Linked DNA regions of Homo sapiens: region 2 is linked to region 1. Evidence: fine-mapped expression QTL. A gene starts in region 1. The other region holds a variant in brackets. All regions are shown on one strand. Distances are between the middles of the regions. Region 1 holds the start of TMEM237 (transmembrane protein 237). Region 2 overlaps CATSPERT (catsper channel auxiliary subunit tau).

What was found. PIP is the estimated chance that this variant, and not a neighbour inherited with it, causes the effect. A credible set is the group of variants that fine-mapping cannot tell apart.
Region 2: its variant is the best candidate, but not a certain one, in a credible set for the expression of TMEM237 in left ventricle (GTEx, PIP 0.87).

The regions. Positions count from the first base shown.
Region 1 is chr2:201,640,013-201,657,278 of GRCh38, forward strand. TMEM237 (transmembrane protein 237) reads right to left here and starts at 3,491. Exons shown (of 13, transcript NM_001044385.3): 1 at 3,347-3,491; 2 at 881-912; 3 at 249-253. The coding sequence starts at 3,388. MPP4 (MAGUK p55 scaffold protein 4) reads right to left here. Exons shown (of 22, transcript NM_033066.3): 17 at 16,186-16,356; 18 at 14,825-14,905; 19 at 10,060-10,153; 20 at 9,564-9,672; 21 at 7,679-7,813; 22 at 4,862-5,392. The coding sequence ends at 5,198. It also overlaps the pseudogene RNU6-651P. RefSeq lists silencers at 2,590-2,779, 3,350-3,609.
Region 2 is chr2:201,601,530-201,609,529 of GRCh38, forward strand. CATSPERT (catsper channel auxiliary subunit tau) reads right to left here. Exons shown (of 16, transcript NM_001168221.2): 2 at 3,082-3,168; 3 at 1,695-1,746; 4 at 210-355. Among named protein-coding and RNA genes, the nearest start is that of CATSPERT, 14 kb to the right of the region's middle. The variant A/T (reference allele first, on the strand shown) is at 4,958.

The DNA.
Region 1 (17,266 bases):
CTACAAATTAGCCAACAGTTATGTGCTGGGTGACCCCATTCAGGGATGAAGTGCTTTTATAATGGAAAGGTCATCTAGTGCTATGTATCAATGACAATTTTTAAATGGTAGTCATGGGAGATTATTTCACAAAAACATATTGTAGAATTACAAATTACACCATTCAGACTCAGTTTTAAGAGAAACAAACCAAGGAATCAAACTAATTTTTGAACACCAAATATTATATTTACATTAAACTAACTCACCTTGACTAACACGTCATATAACACCAAACAAATTTAATCAGCAGGACAAAGACAAAAAAGAAACAATTAATTAGAAACCTGTTAATATTCACAGTGAAAATTGACTTAAATCATTACAAATTTAAAATAAAATTAGCTTTCACATAATAGCTAGTTTACAAACTAGTTTACTGTTTATAATTAAGTGGTTTAATAACACTGCTAATAAAATAATGTCAATATTTTCTGAACCTACATATACATATTCCCTACTGTCTATTAATAAAATGGATTAAGCAGATTAAGAACTCTTACTTGTGACTGATTAAAATCAGCTTAAACTCTGAGGAAACTATTCTCACAAAAGACCAGAATTCTGATTTAAAAAAAAAAAGACACCAAAACAGTTAGAAAGGGAATGGATCCATTATCCTACCATGTTGATATTCAGGCTTTTAAATATAACATTCCATTATAACTGTTATTCTTAAAATTCAAGGATTTTTCACCTTTAAAATTTCAGAAAATCCCTAAATTTTTCAGAAGAGTTTCCTGAATCATTGTAATTTTGCAATGATACTAGTCAATTTTTCCACTGTCTTCATTTTCCATTTTTAAAGCTCAATAATGAAATTACTGTAAATTATTTTTACCTTGGCACAGGTGGAAGAGCTCGTGGAGGACGCTGTGGCGGAAAAAATAAATTTGCTTGTAAGTAAAAGCCTAGAGCATCTTTACTTCAAATACCATCACGCTATTTTTTTTTTTTTGAGATGGTGTATTGCTGTGTGGCCCAGGCTGGAGTGCAACGGCACGATCTTGGCTCACTGCAGCTTCCATCTCCTGGGTTCAAGCAATTCCCCTGCCTCAGCCTCCCAAGTAGCTGGGATTACAGGCACCCACCACCATGCCCGGCTAATTTTTGTATTTTTAGTAGAGACGGGGTTTCACCATGTTGGCCAGGCTGGTCTTGAACTCCTGACCTCAGGAAATCCGCCCACCTTGGCCTCTGAAAGTGGTGGGATTATAGGAGTGAGCCACTACGCCCGGCCAAAGCAATTCTTTCAAAAGTCTGTTGTTCAGACATGACAGAAAAATATAATGGATCAGACTAGGATCTTCAAATCTCTTGATAATCTTGTTCATCAGTGAAACCTGGGAGGTACTGATGAGAAACATGGGCAATTTAAAATTTGTTCTCCCATCCTAAATTTCATATAAAATTCCTTCCTTCCTACATTCCTTTCCATCTCTAGGCCAGGCCCTTTTCTAAGCATTAGGAATACACTAATGAACACAATGGAGAGAACTCTGCTCTTATGAAACTTACATTCTAGTGGTTGAGTATTAGAAACAATGTTAAAAATATATATATGATAATATATACTATATATTATATGCAGCATGTACGATAAAATATATTTATATGCTATATTTAAGACATATCTTGTATACATATCGTGTGTGCATATATATATATATACACAAGATACACACACACAAAACGTAATGAATGAAGGAGACTGAGTGCTACTTTTGTTAGGGAAAGTTTCTCTGAGTTTGAGCTGAGACCTGAATGAGAAAGCAGCAACCGGAACAAATGCAAATATTTTTAGGTTAAATTGGGCTTGGAATGTTTCAGGTAAAAGGACAGCAAGGCTGCCGCACAATTACCAAGGAGAGGTAGGCAGGAGCCAGATTAGTTAGGGCCTTGCAGACCAAGGGAAGTTTGGATTTTGTTTTAATTCAATGGGAAACAAATGGAGGTTTTAAACCACATACTAACACAATTTTTAAAAAGGCCAGTTGCATACACTGGGAAGAATGCGTTTTAGGGCAGAAAGAAAGGTGGGGGGAACCCTTCTAAACCCTCATTTACATGAATAAGAAAAGTGTTTGTAGTTCAGACAGCATTACAGTTGAGAAGTATTTTAGAATCATATAGTAACAGAAATGCCTAGAAGCCAATTTAATGTTCCAAGTATCTCATGCTGCTTGCATAAGACATTTATTCAAAAGGGTTAAATTTTAGACACTCTTGTAGTTTGTCCCATTTAGCAATCCATTCGTTCGAACAGTAGATTAATGCAAGTACTACAAGATTAGGACGAGGCAAGCTGCCGTAATACCATCCAGTAGTCAAAATTACAATTGGAGAAGAATGACAGTCACAGGAACGCGCTATTGTTCTAAAGATGCTACGAAGCGCGCGCGATCGATCCCAGGGCTCTGTTCACGTAACTGATTTCAAAAGTCCCGCAAAAATGACGTTCCACCCACCCAGAGACCCAACCTCTAATCCTCAAAAGTAGGACGGCTCAACTGAAGACAAAAATCCTAACAATTAAAAGTAGCTAAGGCTCGCTTACCACAGGATTCTTCCCCATTCTGCGTTTAGCCGGCCTCGGCGGCCGCCGGCCCCCAAGCACCTGGCGCCCCACCCCTCCCGGCTCGGTCGCGCGCGCAGGCGCAATGCGTCATCGGGCCGCGCCGCCTGGCTAGTACCCCGCGCGCAGCGCCCTGCGGGGATGTTGCGGTGAGAGGCGTGCAGGGACCTGGATTGGCCAGTCCAGACTAGCCCTGCCAAAAAGGGGGCCTCGGAGTTGGGGGTAATGTGCCCAGGAGCAGAAATCTGGCGACCGTGGCGCTGCAATCACAGCTTTCCCGTGGTTTCCTAAGTGGTGGCGGTGATTTGTTTGCGGGAAGCGGGGCGTGACGGAAGACCTTAATTAAAGGACTCCGCAGGCGAACAGATCTCTTCTGGGCAGCTACAGACCTCTCCTCGGAGGAGTCTAGGAGAGGCCTGGCTGGAAGCCCCGGCACCCGCCGGGCCCCGGGCCTCAGATGAGTGAGGCGTCGTCGTGGCAACGCGGGCTCAGGTCCCCGCAAACTTCATGCCAGGCCTCTCTCTCCCACTCCGGGAGTTCGGTCCCGGCCTCGCCTGCGTCTCCGTCCCATTCCTGTGAACACTGGAGGGGCGGATGCGCGCACCCCACGAGCAAGGCCCTCCCTTAGTGATTCCCAGCTCGTTGGCGCCCCCCCACACACACCCACCCCCACTGCCAAGTGTAGCTGTTTACCCGCCACCTCTCGAGGCCGACGCGCCCCTCGCCGCTCACCAGGTGGCCCTCCTCCAGCCGAGCCCCCGAGTCAGTCCTCATGGTGCTCTCCCCGCGGGGCTGCCCCGGCGCAACCGCCGGCGGCCCGAGCCCAGCTCCCCGCGACGCAGCGGCCTCCGGGACCTGTGGGACGCCGGGGCTTCGTGGCGCCTGGCGAGGCAGCCGCCCCCTGAGCCAGGTCCCCGCCCGCCTCTGTCCTGCCAGGCGCTGCTGGGTTTGGGAGGAATGCGTTTACTCTCCAGGACCAACGAGTCTGTGCAGGCCTGGGTGTGTGGATGTGTATTAATATAGGCAATTCTCACATTTTCTCCGATTGCTTACCCTTCATCCCACAACTGTGTAAATCAAATTTGGAAAAACTTTTTCTCAACCTTAAAATCAAATCCAACCTCACATAAATATCACTACAAACTACCTGATTTGCATCGTTTGGTTTGGTTGGGTTTGTTTTTTTTTAAAGATAACTTTCACTTTAAGTAACAGAGAACTACAAATATTTTGAATCATGCATTCTGTTTTACAGTTAAGAAAGAAATGGGAAAGATGGAAGAATGGTGTGGATATGGAGAAGAGAATGATGCAGAAGATGAACAGATACAGGGACAGGGAAAGCGCCTGGAAATCTCAAATCTGGGGAAAGAAAGAGAAACAGCACTTTGTAATGGCATCCTAATCTTGTTACCAAACAAACGGGGCTTGTTGCCCTATACGCACAGAAGCCAATATTATGGCGCTGATTTTTTGAGAAAAGTTTTCATTGTGAGTCAGCTAACAAGGAGACAGGAGTATAGCTCTAATCTGTCTCCCTGTGTTGGCTTTAAGACAGTATTTTTATTAGAAAACGTTTAGGGGGTGGATTCTGGGATTAGTAGGTGATTGGTGGAAGGAAAGAAGCCATCTGGAAAATCCTCTGGCGTTCGCAGTTACCTCTTCATGTCCCTTCATGGGTCGCATGTGCAAATTTTGGAGGGAGTCAGTGTGAAACATGGGGAAAGATTCAAGCTGTGACGCCAGCAAGCTCATTTTGTACAGACTCCAGGTAGCCATCCGTGTTAGTACTAACCACTTTCAGCCAGTTTGCTTTGTTTTGTTTTGTTTTGTTTTTTAATCTCACAATGGAAGAAGTTTAGGCGTTTTATTTAGCAAGTTGTTTTTTATCTGCCGTCCTGCATGCTCAAGAATTTCTGTTAGTCCCTGGTTTCTTTAACTCTGAGACACGGTTTCACTCTTGTGATTTTCTATATATAGGTCTCTGGGATTAATCCATTGCCTTTTTCTAATTTAGGCCTGCATGTAGATATTGGCTGTTAAGGAAAATTAGTGTTTGTCACACCTCTCATGAGAATAATTTTTTCCTTGTAGGCCGATTTGTAAATAGTGAAGGCAGTGCAGTTTCTTGTAGGTTTTGATTTTAGATGTGAAATGTGTACATTAAACCTTTCTTGCTGAGTTAGTCAAGTAAGCACTTTTTGTAAAAGATGTTTTCATAAAACACGTTTCATAGAGTACAGTTTCTAAAGTTAACTATTGCTTATTTTATTTAGGAAAGCTCTTTATTTAAATCTTAAAAAGATCATGTGAAATCTGCGAAAGGTTCTCATACTCAGTGACTTAACATTATTCATATTTCTACCACAGCTGCATATGAGGTAAAGGAAAAAAAATTAAGTTAAAATAGGTAACCACATAACCATACAATAAAAATTTTTTTCAAATAAGATTAATTAATAAATTGCTGCACTTTTAAAGTTGTACACATTAAAATGGGTCAAATACTGTTGTTTTAGATTGCAACTATGGATCGCTGTATCAAGGGTACAGTGTTAAAACTCCAGCATTAAACAAGAAGTCTCATTGAGACTCAGTATCTGAGGAAATCCATGTTGCTGGTACCCACTGAGGCTCCTCCTGAGCCTTCTGTATGGCAGACAACAACTGGGCACATGCATCGTGCAAGCTGTCATTCACAATCACATGATCAAAAAATTGGCCAAACTGAGTTTCCATTCTTTGGGCTAAATTTTCCATCTCTTGTAGGTCTTCATCCTTTAGGAGAAATAGAAAAATATGGATAGTACAGACTTAATTGGACAAATGGAAAAAATACAGTTTGTTATGCTGTCACATTCAGTTGTGAAACTATGTATAAAAACAGTAAGGTCCGAAAATTTTGCACAGATGATTTTCAATAAAGTTTCAAAAATATTTTTTCAAAATTCTACAAAACCAGCAAACTAGAAAATAGTAATTTTTTTGCCCTCTGTTATTGAAATAATGTGGCTAAGTATAGATAAAATAATTTTTTTTTTTTTTAGACAGGGTCCCACTCTGTCCCAGGCTGGCATGCAGTAGGATCATCTCAGCTCACTGCAGCCTCTGCCTCCCAGGCTCAAGTGATCCTCCCACCTAGGCCTCCCAAGTAGCTGGGACTATAGGCACATGCCATCATGCCCAGCTAATTTTTGTAGAGAAAATATAATTATTATAACAGGTATAAACATATCCTTCTAAATTAATGTGAAGCATAAGCAAAGCTGGGAAAAGTATATCACTATCCACAGTATGTCATCCTTTATTTCTTAGAAATGTATTACTGAGATAAAGAAATTTTAATTTGGAAGTTTTTTTAAATAATAAAAGACTGAAGTTTTTATTTTAAAAAATGAGGTCCAATAAATGTCTTCTAAACTACAAAACTTATGTTTTAATCTTTAGTCTTAATGTCTCGTCATGTTTTGCAAAATTTAGTCATAGTTTGCAGACAGATTACTCCCCTCAACTTCCCGTGTGAACTTATCTTACTCTTACCTAAACACTTGAAACTTTTTAACCATATACAACATAAAACCAAAGAAAATGTACCAGTTTAAATAAAATTTAAACATAAATTTCAAGTGAACATTAATCTGATAGGGATAACATTAAAGATACAAAATGGCCACTTTCAACATGAGGATGGTATAAGCCAGTTATATTATGTTTCTACTATTGTGAAATGTTCATTTAATGAAGGTAATTTGGCATTCACTTGGCACTAATGCATTAAATTCATTGCTGTTATTTTCTTATTAGTTCATGAAAATAGTACAACTTGTCACCAATACAATCTGAAACACAAATGCAGGCACCAAAATCTTGTGGCTTTACAAAGTGACCATACATATGATCCAGAAACAATTTTGTTAATTTGTTTAGACTGCCATAAAAATGAGAACAATTTTAAATGCCCATAAGACTCAGCAAATACATTCATGGACTCCACTGTTCACAAGGCAAACTGGAAAATCAGACCTCCATAGTCATTGCAAAAAATATGAAAATAAAAATAATAAGAGAAAGGATAATTTAAAGATACCTGTGCTTGCTTTGGTAGCACACAGACTAAAACTGAAACAATGCAGAGATTAGCATGGCCCTTGTACAAGCATGACATACAAATATTTAGTGAATCATTCATATTTTTAGTTTCAATTTTGCCAGGTAAATAAATTCTAGAGCTCTGTTTCACACAATGTGAATATACTTAACACTAAATACTAACACTGAACTGTACACTTAAAACGGTTAATATGGTGAGTTTTATGTATTTTTACCACACATATACACACACACACAAGTGGCTGTAATATCTTGATGTGGGTGATGGTTATCTGGGTGCATACACACATAAAAATTCATTAAACTGTACACTCTGTACACCTTACTGAATGTATGTTATGACACAATATTTAAAGCATATTTAATGTAAAATATATGTACGCAACCGGAAAAAAAATCACCTGTTCTAGGATGAGATCACTGATTAATTTCACTTGGCTTGCCCCCTCTATTATTACCATCATCATTTTACAGATGAGATATACTCACTGAGCATTTTTAAAGTAAGCTTTTAAGTAAAAGATATTCTGTTTAAAATACAAACACCAGGCTCATACATGCCCAATTTCTGTTTGGCTTTGCAAACTACGGCTCAAGGATTTTTTTTTAAGCTAGACCCAAAAAAATAAGAAAGTAAAAAATAAGGGTAGCATCATAACATTTATTAAACTTTATATCTGTAAGTGATGTCCATCCAAAAGGATAAATCGTAAGGGCATTATCCATTAGAAACAAAAATTACATTCTCTAACACAGATCCTGTAGAAACAATACAGTTTTAATTTTTTTTTTAAATAAAACCATAGTAAACCATTTTATTGAGGGCCTTTTGGAGAGGGGGTCAAAAAGGAGGAGGAGGACAATGAGATCAGAGATCCTTGGCCCAGCCCAACCCAGATCTCTCCCACGCAGAAGCCACTGAAAGCAATACAGTAGTTTTTGACTTGCTCTTACCTTGAACTTCATGTCCACATAGTAGTCAGTAATAACCTTGGCATTTTTCCGAGATTGTTTCATACACCTCATATTCGATGGCTTTATAAATATGACATAGGGCTTCAGTTCATGGGTTCGAACCCCTTGAATATCCTACACAGAAAATTTAAATGCACATTTATTTTTTGTTTGTTTTGTTTTGAGACATGGTCTTGCTCTGTCACCCAGGCTGGAGTGCTGTGGTGCAATCACAGTTCACTGTAGCCTCAGCTTCCCAGGCTCAAACGATCCACCCATCTCAGCCTCCCAAGTAGCTGGGACCACAGGCATGTGCCACCATGCCCAGCTATTTTGTTTTGTTTTATTTTGTTTTTGAGTCTCATTCTGTTGCCCAGGCTGGAGCGCAGGGGTGGGATCTCTGCTCACTGCAACTACCGCCTTCCCAGTTCAAGCAATTCTTGTGCCTCAGCCTCTCTAGTAGCTGGGATTATAGGCGTGTGCCACCACACCCAGCTAATTTTTGTATTTTTAGTAGAGATGGGGTTTCACTATGTTGCCCAGACTGGTCTCAAACACCTGGCCTCAAGAAATCCTCCCATCTCGGCTTTCCAAGGGATTATAGGCATGAGCCACTGCACCTGATCTAAATGCACATTTAAAAACAGAAGTCCTAGCTTTCTAGAGTGAACATGAAGCTTCTCAAAATTTCTAAGACCAGAAATTAGCAATTATTTTTAGAGTATAGTCTCATGTACCCTCAACTCCTCAATTCTAAAAAACAAATGAACATTTTAAAAATTTGAAGATGTAGTTTTAGAATCAAAATTAAGGTCAGATCCTGACTCTTATTAGCTATGACTAGCAATTGAAATCTTACTAGCAGAGTAAGAGTCTATACATGAGAGAATCTCATTTACTGAGAGTAGGATTCTATACATGATCTCATATGACAAAGACAAAGACAGACTCTCAAGGTGGATCAGCTCTGTTTCACCTTCACTTCCCTTTCCTCTTGCTATTATCTCACATTGGATACTACTACCATCTGTTTTCCTCTGATTCTCTAGCACACAAAGTATATTTCTAAATGACTAAGAAAACATGGCTGGGCGCAGTAGCTCATGCCTATAATCCCAGCACTTTGGGAGGCTGAGGCAGGTGGATCACTTGAGCCCAGGAGTTCCATTGCCAGACCAGCCTGGCAAACATGGCGAAACCCTGTCTCTACTAAAAATACAAAAATTAACCAGGCATGGTGGCTTGTGCTTGTAGTCCTAGCTACTCGGGAGGCTGAGGCACGAGAATTGCTTGAACCCGGGAAGCGGAGGTTGCAGTGAGCGGAGATCATGCCACTGCGCTCTAGTCTGGATGACAGAGCAGGGCCTTGTCTCAAAAAACAAAACAAACACAGACACACACACAGACACACACACACACACGAAGAAAATACAAAGTTCATAAAAATTGGGCCTACGGATTGCATGCTGTTTATCTTACCTTAACTTGCTCACCCCTGCTCCATTCTACATGTGGTCTCAGGAAGGTAGCCACAGATATGACAACATAGAAACCTCACCTCCTTGTACAAAGCAACATCTTATTCACTCCACAAGAAGTTACTCTGATGCCTTTGTGATCAAGGTTAAAGCAAGAAAGATTCTTGCTTCTCTTTGTGACCACTCAATCAGTTCTGCTTTTCTGTCTGAGAAGCAAGACTTCTTTCCCAACTAAAAGTAAAATGTTGTCAATTGACACGTTAAGTAAGATCTTATATATGGGAAATGGCCTTATTCTTAAAAGGCTAACAGAATAAATGTCTCAACTATAACCTACAGCATGTGCACAAAAAATGGATGATACGCATTCATTGTTTGGGGACATAAATATTCCACCATGGACCCACCTGAGGCTCTAGGTCCATGACACAGATCTTTCCTTCGACAAGGACTGTTTGAACAGCATCCACACTAGTGCCATACAGGTGGCCTTTGTACTCACCATACTCCAGCATCCTGCAAGAGCAGGCCAAACAAAACAGAACACTTTCTACAAGGAAAATATTATTAGTAGTAACATGAGGATAAACTGCACTAGAGTTGAATATAAATATGTGGACTTTATTAACACAGAAAGAATGAATAGATATTCAAGAGGTGAACAAAATGAGCATATCTAGAGTTTATGTATTTCCTCAAGTTCTCCAAGGTTTGCAGACTCCATTCTGCTCCCTTTCTAAACCCAGTGAGTTGGTGTGCTGTATATCGATGTACATTTCTTGCTTAACTCCTCAGAAACAAAAGGAATTACCCAGGAGATTTGGAAAATACATAAAAATAGGGAATCTATTTCAAATGTAAAACAACAAGAGGTAAGAATCAGCTTCTGAACCTCTACTTTACCTGTGACTATATATGAGGTTTTCAAATGTTTCCTTGGACACATAGTGATACTCACGCCCATTCATTTCGTAACTCTTTTTAGTACGAGTAGTGTCTATCAGAAAAAGGGAATGAAAGGTTTCAGTGTCTTCAGAATTCTTTGATTACCAATATGCATTTGAATAAAGATATCTAATCAAAATAAATAAATGAATATATAATCAAGGAGATAAAATGCTAGAACTAAAAAGAAGAAGCCTGAATTGGTGATAAGTTCTCGTATCAAAATCAGTTAGTCTATAAACCTTTACTGAGTGCTTATGGTATGAAAAAGAATGCACTAGGTATTAAGCCAGCATAAGAAAGACCTAAGGGAACACCTGTTATTACTTCAAAATAAGTGCTAGTGAATTATGTGTGAACCTTTAGATGCCTGAAAGCTCCCAGGTAGCAATACCAATAATATCTTACATTTGGATAGTGCATTTCCCATGATCTCATTTCATCTTCCACACTCTTACCTTAGGTAAACTGTTAATATCTATATTTTACTCATAAGAAAAGCTTTTGGAGAAACTTGCTCACATTCATAAGACTGATGAAAAGCGAAGTTGAAATTAGAACCTACGTGTTCTGACTCCTCTAGATGAGTGTTTTTTACAACAATAGATTCTCAAATTTGAAATGGAGAAAGCCCATGACATTCTGCAATCTTGACCAGATGCATTAATACCCAACCGAGTGGTGATTCGTTTTAGGGATCTCTAGGAGGGAAAGATTAGCTGAGTCTAGATTCAGTCTGATTCTTTGATATGGCCACTTTGATTACAGACTCTTCAACTTAAATAGTGCCAGGTTGTATAGAATATAGGAGTTCATCAAATATCTAAAAGTTATTTGTTGTCTGCTCATTCATTTATTCAACTAGTGTGTACTGAGTGCCTACTATGTTCCAGGTATCATGTTAGGTTCTGAAAACACAAAGATGAGTAAGACAGTTTCAACTCTGCATCCTATATACTGTAAAGCTAGTCCCTTAATCTATATTACCATTAGTTCCCCTTATTCATACAGAATTTGTGTATTTGCATCTGACAAAGTTTAAGGATGAAATAGATCAACATCTGATGATATCAATACATGGAAATGATCAAGTAGAAGCTAGAAACCGGCCTTAAATTATCAAAGGAGTTACCAACCTTCAAGGGGGTCTAAAAGCAAATGTCATCTTGGGGTCATTTTTGTTTTTTCCTTATTCAAGCCTCTCATCAGATCCTTAGAGTTCCTACAGTTACATCACATCTCCCATAGCTTCCTACTTAAAACAAAATTCTAGTAAAACCTTATAGCTCTCAGGTGATAGTGAATTATGTCAATCTAAACCCAAGATGACTCCTCCTTTGCTTCCACTGGACTAATATTTATATGGTAGGTTAAAGTCTGTGAATTGATGTATAACTCGAGGTATCCATTTTAAGCTTAAAACCTCAATTTAAAAAGCAAAATATGAGCAGTATTTTCTCACTTTGAATGATTAAAAATCTACGTTGATATTCTTAAAATTCTTCTATATTCTGTGGGCATTTTATTTTTATTCAGACTATCGAAAAATGGTGATTTTGGCCGGGCACAGTGGCTCACGCCTGTAATCCCAGCACTTTGGGAGGCCAAGGCGGGTGGATCACCTGGGGTCAGGAGTACAAGACCAGCCTAGCCAACATGGTGAAACCCCATCTCTACTAAAAATACAAAAATTAGCTAGGCATGGTGACGTACACCTGTAATCCCAACTACTCAGGAGGCTGAGGCAGGAGAATTGCTTGAACCCAGGAGGTGAGGTTGTAGTGAGCCGAGATAACACCACGGCACTCCAGCCTGGGCAATGCAGTGAGACTCCATCTCAAACAAAACAAAACAAACAGAAAAAAAAAAAGAAAGAAAAGGAAAATGTTGATTTCTTTGGTAGTTTTTGCTTTTCAGATTAATGCACATTCCTGTACATGAAAGCAGTACTTCAGAAAGCACAGCCTATAGCATGCGATCATAAAGCAACTTCTTGGTCTCCCACAGCCCTTATGTGAGGCAAGATCTTCCCCAGCCCCTGCACAAAATTCTAGCAGTTTCCTGGCCGGGTGTGGTGGCTCATGCCTATAATTCCAGCACTTTGGGAGGCTGAGGTGGGCAGATCACTTGAGTTCAGGAGTTGGAGAACAGACAGACCAACATGGTGAAACCCCATCTCTACTAAAACTACAAAAATTAGCTGGGCATGGTGGTGGGTGCCTGTAATCTCAGCTACTCGGGAGGCTGAGGCAGGAGAATCACTTGAACTCATGGGGCAGAGGTTCCAGTGAGCCAAGATCACACCACTGCACTCCAGCCTGGGCGACAGAGCAAGACTCCGTCTTAAAACAAAACAAAACAAAACAAAAAACACTAGCGGTTTCCATGACTCTTTCACTCAGGTTTAATTTTAAAAGTCTATCATCACTCATGCCACAATTTCATTTTCATCATCCAGTCTCAACTGACTAATTAAAATTCCATTCTCACATAATCATCAAAATTATAAACTTCACTTAGATTTTAGGCTGCTTCTCCACACATCTGGCTCAAATTTGCTGCACCAGGGAAGCCTGCGCTCAGAGAAGCCAGACGAGAGCCAGACGAGAGTATGAGTCACTTCTCTTTCCTTTCACCATATTTCTACTGCTCCTGCTTCTCTCTGCCCCCGATAGATCTCACTTCCACTGGTTTAGAACTCTCTAAGGCTAGAGTGCAGGGAGGGAGAGGAAAGCAGGAAGGAAGGTTCTGGTTTGGCAAATACTGATTCTGGCTGCTATTGGCTTTCTTTAGATTTGGCAGATCCTTAAATCCGGCTCTTTCTCTCCTAAATGATATATTGGGTTATTTTGCAAACCCTATCTCACCAACACAAGGCCTCTCAAGTCCATTCCTATTCCAGTTTGTCATCTGTGATTCCTTCCAAAGCCTGATATATTTGGGAATCCACTTTTGGCCTTTTTCTCCTCAGGCTTCCTCCTGGGCAGGAATCATATAACCCTGGGCTGACTGTCTTATACATTACCTGCCCAGATCTGGTCCTTGGGGAACATCACAAGTCTAGCTGTGATGGACCCTACAAGGACAGCTACTTCCCAAATTATAGCCATTGGCCACTTCCTGTAAGCTCTTCTCCTTTGGATTTTTCAGGTGTAATTCGGACACCATTCTTCTGTGTCCCCCAAAGTGCAGAAGACACATAGGAAGCTCTCCAAGTGGTTCCCCTAGGTTCCTCTGTCTTGCCTTGAGGGGAGGGGGAAGCAAGCACACCCACACACTCTTCCCACACTCAGTGGGTCGGGAACACCCAGCACCGCTCTCTCCAATAAAAGCCTCCCCAAAAAGCCCCATGAATCTCCCTCCCCAAGCCTTTTATACCCTCGAGGTGTGTGAAGAGTTTAACTTGTTTTCACATTCCTCGTTACAGATGTGCATCTTAGTGCCTCAGTCAAAATTTTAACTTTCTTTTACACATATTAGAAACGATGCATTATTATACATTATTATAAACATGCATTATTATGAACTTTCTATTTTGTTGAAATCAGGAATTCTATCTCAAGTCTTGATCTTTTCTATTTTTACAATAAAACAGGTTGTCTTAGAGTGATTTTAAAGGTTTTTTTTGAACGATGAATCTCAGTATGAAACAAATAATTCCTTCTATTTTTAGAATTGTAGCTCTCAAATGTTAAAGCTTAAAAAAAAACTTCATATAACAACTCTAAATGGGTAAAAAACTCACACAACTCTATATAGAGAAAAGTCTGGAAGATTACGTTTTAGGAGTTGCTTTGGAGCTGGTAGTAGTAAAGGGGGAGCTTAGGAGAAATAAAGGAGTTACGAGTAAAAGGAAATAAGAAAACACTTTTTTTTTTTTCGAGTCAGAATCTCACTTTCTCGCCCAGACTGGAGTGCAATGGTGCAATCTCGGCTCACTGCAACCTCCGCCTCCCAGGTTTAAGCGATTATCTGTCTCAGCCTCCTGAGTAGCTGGGATTACAGGCATGCAGCACCACACCCAGCTAATTTTTGTATTTTAAGTAGAGACGGGGTTTCACCATGTTGGCCAAGCTGGTCTTGAACTCCTGACCTCAGATGATCCACCCACTTCAGCCTCCCAAAATGCTGGGATTACAGGAGTGAGCCACCGTGCCCAGCCAGAAAACACCATTTTTTAAAAAGCTGTGTATTTTATAATCATACTCATAAATTTATATAAAGTTGTATAGGCATATATCAATTTTTAGATAGTAAGCACTGGGTGTATGTTAACTATTATTGCTAACTATTAGTTTGCCTGAAAGGCCATCCCTATAATGTTAAGAAATAGAAAAAAGCCATTTTAGACTGTTGTGGGGTAGGGGGAGTGGGGAGGGATAGCATTAGGAGATATACCTAATGCTAAATGACGAGTTAATCGGTGCAGCACACCAACATGGCATATGTATACATATGTAACAAACCTGCACGTTGTGCACATGTACCCTAAAACTTAAAATATAATAATAATTAAAAAAAGAAAAAAGCCCTTTTAAAAGCCAGCTGCCTACATTCCAATAAGTCAGTTTTCCTTATTAAAATAAATATGGTTAGAAATACTTAAGAACTATCCCTGGTGTTGTATACTTTTACAACAAAGATGGAATGACATAGTTAAATGAGATCAGCAAAGAAAGTTTTACCAAAACACAAACCATTATGAAAGCAGAACTAAACATACGTGGCACAGCACTTTGAAAATGGCTGGGATTAAATTCAATAAGTTGTCTTCTGAGCTCATTTACTCCAACACCAGAGGGTCCTAAACACAAAAAGTCACACACAGAAATCATCAGATGTGGATAAATATAATTATGTGATGGAATTATCATTTTAGTCCTTCTACTGAAGAAACTTGAGAGCAAATATTTTTAGGGAAATTATGTAACTTCCTTTCTCATAAATTGGAAGAACCCCAGAAAACTCTTGGGAATTTTTCTAGTGACCCATGGAGTAATCCACATTGTTTCAACATTCAGGAATGAGGTAAGGAATCACAGGAACCTGACCCCCAGCAAACTTCATCTAATGTTGAATGCCATGAGAATTAGCTGGTCTCATTTTAGAGAATCAGAGAGCTCTGCCTTTCTTCTTCAAATGAGGTTTTTATCAAGTGACAGCCAGAAACCAGCATCAACAATTATAGGTTCTGTGACTTACAGAATTCAGGGGCACATTCCTGACAGATGATCGATCAGCACCCCCATGTCCGGCCGGAGGCAGGGCCGACTTCATGGGTATAGAACCTGTGCAGTTACACAGGGCACATGCTTAGAAGGATACTGTGCTTGGATGAATTCTCTACTATTGCATCTTGAAATCTTTGATAATTTTTTAACAAGGGGCCCTTGCATTTGCATTTTACAATGGGGCCTGCAAATGATATTGCTGGTCCCAGCTGTAAGGCACATCGTTCTGCTCTACAGGGACCTGCCTTGCTCATGAAGCTAAACAGGCAGACACGAAGGCAGTAGGATACAAGTTGCTACTGCTACAGGGACCAACTTTGCAAAAGTCATGGTCACAAAAGCAGGTCACTCCTGCACTATCTTTGCCATGATCTTTATAAAGCACCAAAGATACAGTCCAGAAGATGTTAGATACTTTTCTAAAGGAAGTAGTTACAAATTTCTTAGGGGAATGGACTTTAAGAATTTAACATATTTCTCAGGGAAATGGACCTTAAGAATTTATTTTCAGGATACAGGTTAATGATCTGTCTGGGGAAACACTCATCTATGTTTACAGAACAATTCTAAGCAGGCAAAAAAAAAATCTCAGTCATAATGACATCGTAATACTGGTTATATAGTTCATGGACACCATGTCATAACACATTCACTTGTAGATTTTTTAAAAAGCTTGATACAATAAAATGTTACTTATAAACACACATGTACAATGGCTTTGTTTTTTAAAAAAGGTATTTGTATGGGGGTCCATAAAGAGTTCTACTTTCACCATTATTCCCAATGCAAGACACCTGAATCTAGAAGGAAGACTTCTCAAGGAGGAGGAGAGACAGTGCATGCTGGGACATACCCATGAGCACTATGAGGCGGTACTTGTCTGAAGGGCGTCGCTGGTACCTCACCACCTCCTCGTAAGGGGCACCCACTGCACTGTAGCAGCTGCCGGTGCAGCACACACTGGCATGCAGCGGGCTGAGGTGAGACTTCCTGCGACAAAGGCGCATGCTGCGGCGGAAGCCAGCTAGGGAGGGGAAGTGCACAGAACGTAAGAACCAGGCAGGAGAGATCACTTGTAGCTTCACACCTGATGAAATATGTAGCAACCATGATCCTAAAGTGTTCATTAATATAGTCAGGTCTGTCTGAAGTTAGAAGATGGGAAGTAATATGAGGGAAAAATATGAAAATGCCCCCTGTGCTAGCCCATCTAGCACCTGCTCTGGGCCAGGCATTGTCTTGGGTGCTGGCGATAGATGGCTCAACTAATCCAAGGCCACTTTCTCATGAAATCTACATTTTGTAGAAGAAGAGAGACAAACATAAAAAACAACAAAAAATAAGTACTCATAAGAAGATGAGGTAGATAGAGAGTGATGGGGGTGCTTTTTTAGATAGGCAGTAAGGTTGGAGTATCTCTGAAAGGTTGGCGTTGAGCAGACATCTGGAGGAAGGCAGGGAGCCACATCAGGAAGCCTCTGCAGAGACGGGCAAGCCAGGCCAAGGGAACAGCAAGTGCAGTGGTGCAGAGAAACGAACTGTGCTTGGAGCATTTGAGGAACAGCAAGGAAGCCTGTATAGCTGCAGGGCGGTAAGCAACAGGGAGTATGGAAATAGGGTCAGGGAAGTGGCTGGAGCCAGATCACACAGGGCCTCTGAAAGTGTTGGATTGTTGTGGAAGTGTGATGGGAAGCTGTTGGTAGTGACATGATTTGATTCATGTTTCTGAAAGACTCCTCTGGTTGGTGTAAACCGTAGGGAGAGCAAGTGTGGCCTCAGGAGAGAGCAGTTAGGAAGCTACTGCAGTGGTCTGGGTGGGAGATGAGGGTGGCTTGGGCCAGGGTAGAAAGAGTGGAGCAGGCTCATTTTTCACATTTTTCAGGTGGTTTCACTAAGACACAGACAGGTTAGGTGGTTGCTTAGGACTGTGTGAT
Region 2 (8,000 bases), 43 kb before region 1:
GATTATGCATTTCGCAGTAAAATTGTTTCTTTTTTTAAAACACCACTATAGCCCATGGTATAGAAATAGAATACTGTAAGATACCAAATAAAAAGGCACTTACTGCTTTTGTTTCTTTTCTACTCATTTTTATAAAAAGACAGAATTAGGGTAGAATATTTGGAACTATAAGGAGCCATTCTAATATCTAGAAGAGATATTAACATTACCTGTACAGAAAAATACTTCACTTCATCGAACTTAATTACAGTGTTCTTCTCATCGTTTTTGGATAGCAAGCTACACATTTTTGTACATTTCACAGCTTTGTTTATAGAGATGCGAATGAATAAATTAGCATAATGTTGTAAACTGACTGAAAATAGAATGATATTCAGGAAATAAATTTTGTTGTAATTGAACAATAATACATTATAAAATTAATACATTAAACGATTCAGACCAAAACCTAAGAATCAATCATGTAGCATTAAACAATAGAAAAAAAGTATTCTAAAATAGTATTTTTGCCCATCACTGGTGGACACAATATAAGTAAAAGAAGGTTGATTCTTCCTTACATCCCTTATATTTTTAACCTCACATTTCCAACAAAATTCCTTTGCAAGTTTTGCTATGTATTAATTTCAAGGTGACTAAGTATATGCAATATATAGTTGAAATTTTTCCTAAGGAAAATTATGTAGAAATTCAAAATATTTAAAAATATATCAGATTAACCTATTTTTAATTTTGAGACAAAAAGTGTTCTACTCTAATTCACTTAAGAATATAGTTCATTTATACTATATTGGTCTGTATTGTATCTTTCATAGAATGCTACAGAGTAAAACAATTTTGTTTCAAGATTTAACTATCTTCAAAAATCTCATTATACAGAATTATTTTCCAAAATTCTCTTTATATAAAAAAGAAACATCAAATCTCCATAATGAGGCTGGTTTTATGCTGTGATAAATCTAAAAATAAGCACTCAGCTTGTTTAAAAGCACCAATATAAATTAAATCCTTTTAAAAATGTTTAAAGGAAGCACACATTACTTACAAATAAATTAGCATTATCATACAAGAAGATATATATTTTTCCTTTCATTTATATGGTGATTGAGGTGATTACAGATGGCTGAAAAGCTTTTGTTACTCTCACATCAAAAAGTCCACTTTATTTCCCCTGCCACTAAATCTGGGCTGGCTCTATGATTACATTAACCAATAAAATGTAATGGAATGTGACTAGGGTTGGGACTAGTAAGCCAAAAAGGCACTCAACTAGAGCACAAAATTTAAGGGGACACCAACAACTAGTAATCAAGATAAATAATATATTACTGTGATATATTTTTAAATTAAAATTAATAAAGGGGGATAAAACATGATAGGACTTAGGGAAAGAGAGAGAGATCCAACCATTTCAGCATCCCTGCTAAGTCTAGCCTTCCATGCATCCCCACTAAAGCAACTAGACATGTAAATGGGCCACTTCAGATATTCTAGCCCTTTTGAACTGTCAGACAACAGCCCAAGCTTTTATATCATGAAGCAGAAGAAGCAAATAGTGAATGAACAGTAGTGATTGATGATAAAATGGTCAATGTGTTAAGCCACTAAGTTTTGGAATGGTTTGTAATGCAGCAATGGATAACTGAAACAGTGAGATATAATTACTATGATTCTTAAATCAAAAGAAAGGATACTCTTAGGCATAAAATGTCTGCAGTTCTTTATATGAATGCCCAGGCAGCCAACCTACAACAATCAAAACAAAAACACAGACAGTGAATGCATTTAAAAAGTTAACTGTTCTTTCACTTTACACTGAGCTCTATTTTTAAAAAGTAAAACTCCACGTTGTTGGTTTTTCTCATTTGAAATATTGTTTCTCATGAAAAATATCTAGTTAATAGAAATCATCGGAAAGCAGAAATACAGAAGAAAAATGCGCAGGCCACATTCAAAGTAAACCTAAAATGAACAAGAATACAAAGCCAAAGAATAATAATTCATTATTAACATAAATCTGATCATCACTCTTTAAATTGTTTTTATTTGATATTAGGTGAGAACTGATAAAATATAGCACCCTGCATATAAAATTAAGAAATGTGCCTTATTTCAGACAAACTCTTTTATCCAGTGTCCTAAGACCACTTAATTCATTCAGCAATGATTCATTGGCTATAACATGCCAAGGACTGTAAAATATTCATGCTCTTGCACCAAGTTTTTCTAAATGTTAAAGAAAATTGCATCATGTGCTTAACCAAAAAATCAAATACAAAATAAATGCAGGAACATCTGAATCCTAATATGAGAATTAGCCAAATATATTTAGCCATGTTTAGTATTTAAAACCAAGTAAAAACAACAGAAATATTATATTAAACATTGTATATGATAGGAGGTAGAGGGACAAGAAAAATTCTTATTTCATACCCAGTTACCACTCTAATAGTGTTCAGAAAATAAAAATAACTGTAAATGAATGTCATAATATTTGACAGTTCTATATGCATGTAGATTCTCATGTCTTGTTCTGTACTTTGAAAACAGAATAACAGATTTTTCTGGTTCTCAGCCTAGATACTGCGTCCTCCCTCTGTGTGGTGTGTGTGTGTATGTGTGTGTGTGTGTGTGTGTGTGAAAGAGAGAGGGGGGTGTTTGCTTTTGTTTCTAGGAGGTTTTTTGGATCGGGGAGGGGCGCAGGATCAATTTTCAGACTTTAGCATGATCTAGCAATAAATATAATCACTTTAAGAGCTCAGTAAAATTACTGATTCCCAGGCTCCTCTCCTAGAGATTCTAAGTTAGCAGATCTTAGGTGGAGCCTCAAGTTAATGTTTTATAAAAAGCATCTGAGGTAATTCCGATATAACTAGATTTGGGAATCCCTAATATAGAAGATATTATTTCTGTGAATCAGGATGTTTTCCATAATTTCAGTGATTATTACAATGTTTTTCTGACTCATAAAAATGAAAAATTCATAAATACGCCATCAGAGAGAACCATTTTCTGCATATACTGTTTGATTATCAAATAATAAATAACTTATACAGGTTTTTGAGGGTTACTCATACATACCACATCCCCAAATGGCACCAAATTTGGCGTCTCCTGTGTTATTTCCAGTTCTTCACTATCAGACTCTTTAAGAGTTTTTCTCAGCATCTACAATGTAAATAAATTAAGATTTGGGAAGAGAAAGACAAACATAACTAGATGAAACATCAATTCAATAATTATTGTATGAATCTCTAGTAAGTGTCAGGTCTCCTCGGTATTGGGGTATTAATATGATTAAGAAACTCATCCCTATCCTCAATAAGAAGTTAGTAGAGAAATAAAAATGTACACAAATATAAAATTAAGAGAATCATGAAAGAAGAGAAAAGTACATAGTTCTTCAGTTTGTTAAGAAATTGAATATTTAGTAGGATATCTTGAAAAGCTTATAAAGAGAATTCCAGTTGGCCCTAGTATAGGAGATACTTTGAGTCTGAATCTCTACTCAATCAAATATATATATACATACACACACACACACACACATACACAAACATATATATGCACACATGCACACACATATACACACATATACATGCACATGCACACACACACTATAGGGACAGAAAGCAAGGAAAGAGAAATCTTAAGAGATGCTGGAAAAGAACAGAGAGGAGTAGGGAACACAAAAGGAAGCACAGACAAAATCATCCTGAGAAAGAGAAAGTTCAACATTGAGCACAAAAATTCTGACCACAGGTCTAGGAGTTGGTAGTTCACAGCAATGGCCATAGAGAAGGGACCTGAAAGAGAAGGACCAGAAGTAGCTCATCATGATGCGCACTGCTTCTGGGGTGAAGGCATCAGAGAAGAAGAGGTATCCCTGCATACATGGCAGGGAAGAGAAAGAAGGATATAAGAGGGGAAAATTAAGCATACCAGAAAAACCGAAGAGAACAACAGGTTATGCCCCTCCTTTCCCCTTACCTCCCATCAATTACAACTTCATCCATTTAAAAAAAAACTGCTTCAATACACTGAAAGAAGAGAGTACACTTAAACTATGGCAAAGAAATGACCATGGCCAAGAAATACGGAAAATCCGACCAACTCCATTAAAAGCTATTATAGGGAGAAAATGGGGAGAAATCTTCAGATGACAAAAATTCTTCCTCCCAAATAACCACAAAACAGAAGTAAATTATAACATAAGATTTCAAACTGAATTAAGTATCTTCAAACAAGCATTTGGAGATGTTTTTAAGCCTACAATTAACAATTCATTCATTTATTCAACAATTAAAACAGAAGTTGACCAAAGAGAAGAAAGAAAAAATGAAATGAGTGTTGATCAATTCAGAAAAGAAATTTTTAAAAAAGACAAACCATCCCAGAAATAAATGCTAAATTATAAAGTGCCCAAAGGTAGCATCGATTCAAAAAAACTTTATAAGGGGCATTGAAGAAGATAAGAACCAGTGAAGAGAATGATAATGAGATAGAGAAAGAAGCATAAAGGGTCAGAGAAAAATGGTTGAATTGGAAGGCAGGCAAATGAAAAATCCTCGAAGTAAAACAAAACAATGGAGGAAAAACGAATGTTTAAAGTTATAATCCAAGAAAAATTTAAGTATTAAGAGAAAAATCTGTATGTGGATAGGACTCACCATGTGTCTAGAAAAACTGGCTCATAATGATCAACTCCAAGATGTGTCCTAGTAAGATTATTAGGCTTTATAAAGACATCTTGCCTACAGGCAAATGACCAAATTATCTATGAAGATAAGAAATAAGACTGGCATCATATTTCTCAAGGGCAACATACAAAGCAATGCAACTGCAGAGCTGTATTTTTATAAAGTTCAAGGCAAGGAAGGTCAAGCCAAGGATTTTTATCCAACCAAGTCTATTTTTATCCAACAAAGTAACAGCATTCATGTATCAAGGCTATTTT[A/T]AAAAATACATGAAACAGGCATTCCAGATAACATTTTACTCTTGAGCCCCTCCCAAGAAACCTACTAAAAGATGAGCTTCAACCAAACCAAAAGATAGTGGGGAAAACTTCAGGATAAGACTTATGGAGAGGACAGGCACGGTGGCTCACACCTGTAATCCCAACACTTTGGGAGGCCGAGGTGGGTGTATCACTTGAGGCCAGGAGTTTGAGACCAGCTTGGCCAACATGGCGAAAACCCACCTCTACTAAAAATACAAAAATTAGCTGGGCGTGGTGGTGCACACCTGTAATTCCAGCTACTTGGGAGACTGAGGCAGGAGAATCCCTTCAACCCGGAAGGTGGAGATTGCAGTGAGCCAAGATCGCGCCACCGCACTCCAGCTTGGGCGATAGAGTAAGACTCTGTCTCAAAAAAAAAAAAAAAAAGACTTATGGAGAGCAGTTAATATATTTAACTGCAGAGTTAAGATTAAAGTAAAGATTCAAATGTTACTACTACAGAAACCACCAAACAACTATAATAAATAGTAAGGGAGAAAGAAAGGAACAAAGTACACACAAAACAAGAAATTAATTAATAAAATGATGAGAATAAGCCCCCACCTATCAATAATAACCTTGAATGTGAATGAATTAAGCTCTCCACTTCAAAGATATACACTGGCTAAATGGATCAAAAAAACATGACCCGATCTTTCGGATTTGGGTAAAAGAAGCCAGACCTACTGAGTTTACATTTTGCTTCTGCCCTCTCTGGCTGTGTTACCCTGGGCAAGTTACTTAACCTCTCTAACCCAGAGATGCTGCATGCAATTTGCTGAATCATAACAGAACCTATTTTATGGGGCTCTTGTGAGACTTAAGGAAATTAATATAAATAGGTCAGACATGGTGGCTGACACCTGTAATCACAGCAATTTGGGAGGTCAAAGCAGGAGGACTGCTTGAGCCTAGGAGTTCGAGACCAGCCTGGGAAACCTAGTGATACCGGCCCCCATCTCTACAAAAGATAAAAGTAAATTAGCCTGGTGTGATGGCACATGCCTGTGGGCTGAGGTAGGATCATTGCTTGAGCCCAGGAGTTCAAGGCTGTAGTGAGCTATGATTTTGCCACAGCACTCCAGCCTGGGGGACACACACACACACAAGACTCTGTCCACACACACACAAAATTAATATAAAGAAAGCAACTAATATACAGTACCTGGTATATGGTAATCAATACTTAAGAGTTTACTCTAGTTAAAAACCGAATTGCCTTTCCCAAAAATGCATACGTTGCAATCCTCACTCCTTGTGCCTCAGAATGTCATTGTATTTGGAGATAGGATTTTAAAAGAGGTAATTAGATTAAAATGAGGTCATCAGGGTGGACCCTAATCCCATATGCTGAGAAGAGAGGTCTCAGAAGAAACCAACTCTACCACCTTAATTTTGGACTTCCAAGCCCCAAAACTGTGAGAAAATAAATGTCTGAGGTTTAAAATACCCAGTCTGTGGAGCTTTGTCATGTAGCTCTAGCAACAAATGCTGCTTGCATTATGGGACAGCAATGCTAGATTTTACATATGGTAAGCATTCCTTCTATAAGCATTTATTAGCACCTACTACCTGCTGGCTGAGCTGGGACTCATATAGGGTAATTGCCTCCAGCATAATTTTTTTGGGTCATGGGGCAGACAGGGTCTTGCTTTGTCACCCAGGATGGAATGCAGTGGTACAATCATAGCTCGTTGTAGCCTCAAACTCCTGGGCTCAAGTGATCCTCTCACCTTGGCCTCTCAAAGTACTAGGATTAGAGGCATGAGCCATCATACCCAGCCTCAGGCACAAAACTTAACTGAATGCCAAAAAACTCAGTCACCATGATAATAATGTGTATACACTTTTTTTTAAAATTTTGGTAGAGGGGAAGGGGCATGGAGCTCTCATGCTCTCTCTGGGCATGTGACCCTCGAGGAATATTTTAATGCATGTTTTTAAAAAAATCAAAATGCTTTCCCCACTTCTCACTACTGCACTTCACCAATACTACAAAGAAAATACGCTGGACACAGTGGCTTATGCCTATAATCCCAGCACTTTGGGAGGCCAAGGTGGGCAAATCATTTGAGCCCAGGAGTTCCAGACCAGCCTGGGCTACGTGGCAAAACCACGTCTCTACAAAATATATAAAAATTAGCCAGGCATGGTGGCGAGTTCCTACAGTCCTAGCTACTCAGGAGGCTGAGTTGGGAGGATCACCTGAGCCCAGGAGGTTGAGGCTGCAGTGAACAGTGATTATGCCACTACACTCCAGCCTCTGTGACAGAGTAAGATCCTGTCTCAAAAAAAAAAAAAGAAAGAAACAAACAAAGAAAGAAAGAAAAAAGAAAAGAGAAAGAAAGAAAAATGCAAAAAAGTTGATTAAAAAAAAAAACATGACCCAACTATATGCTGCCTATAAGAAACTCATCTCATCTGTAAAGGCACATACAGAATGAAAGTAAAGGGATAGAAAAAAATATTCCAAGAATAGCTATGCCAGGAGCAGAAGTAGCTATGGTTATATCAGATAAAATAGACTTAAAGTAAAAAACAGTAAAGAGACAATTTAAAAAAAGGTCATTAGGTCATTATATAATGATAAATGTGTCAAATCAGCAAGAGGATATAACAATTCTAAATATATTATGTACCCAACACCAGAGTACTCAGATATATAAATAGTATTACATCCAAAGGGAAGGATAGACTCCAATACAATAATATCTGGGGACTTTAACACACTACTCTCAGCATTAGACAGATCATCTAGACAGAAAACTAACAGAGAAACATGGGATTTAAATTACACATTAAACCAAATAGACCTAACAGACATTTACAGAATATTTCATCCAACAGCTACCGAATACATACTCTTCTCATCACCACATGGAAAATTCTCCATGACAGACTATATCTTAGGACACAAAACAAGTCTTACCAAATTTTAAAACATTAAAATCATATCAAGTATCTTCTGAGACCACAATGGAATAAAACTAGAAATCAGTAA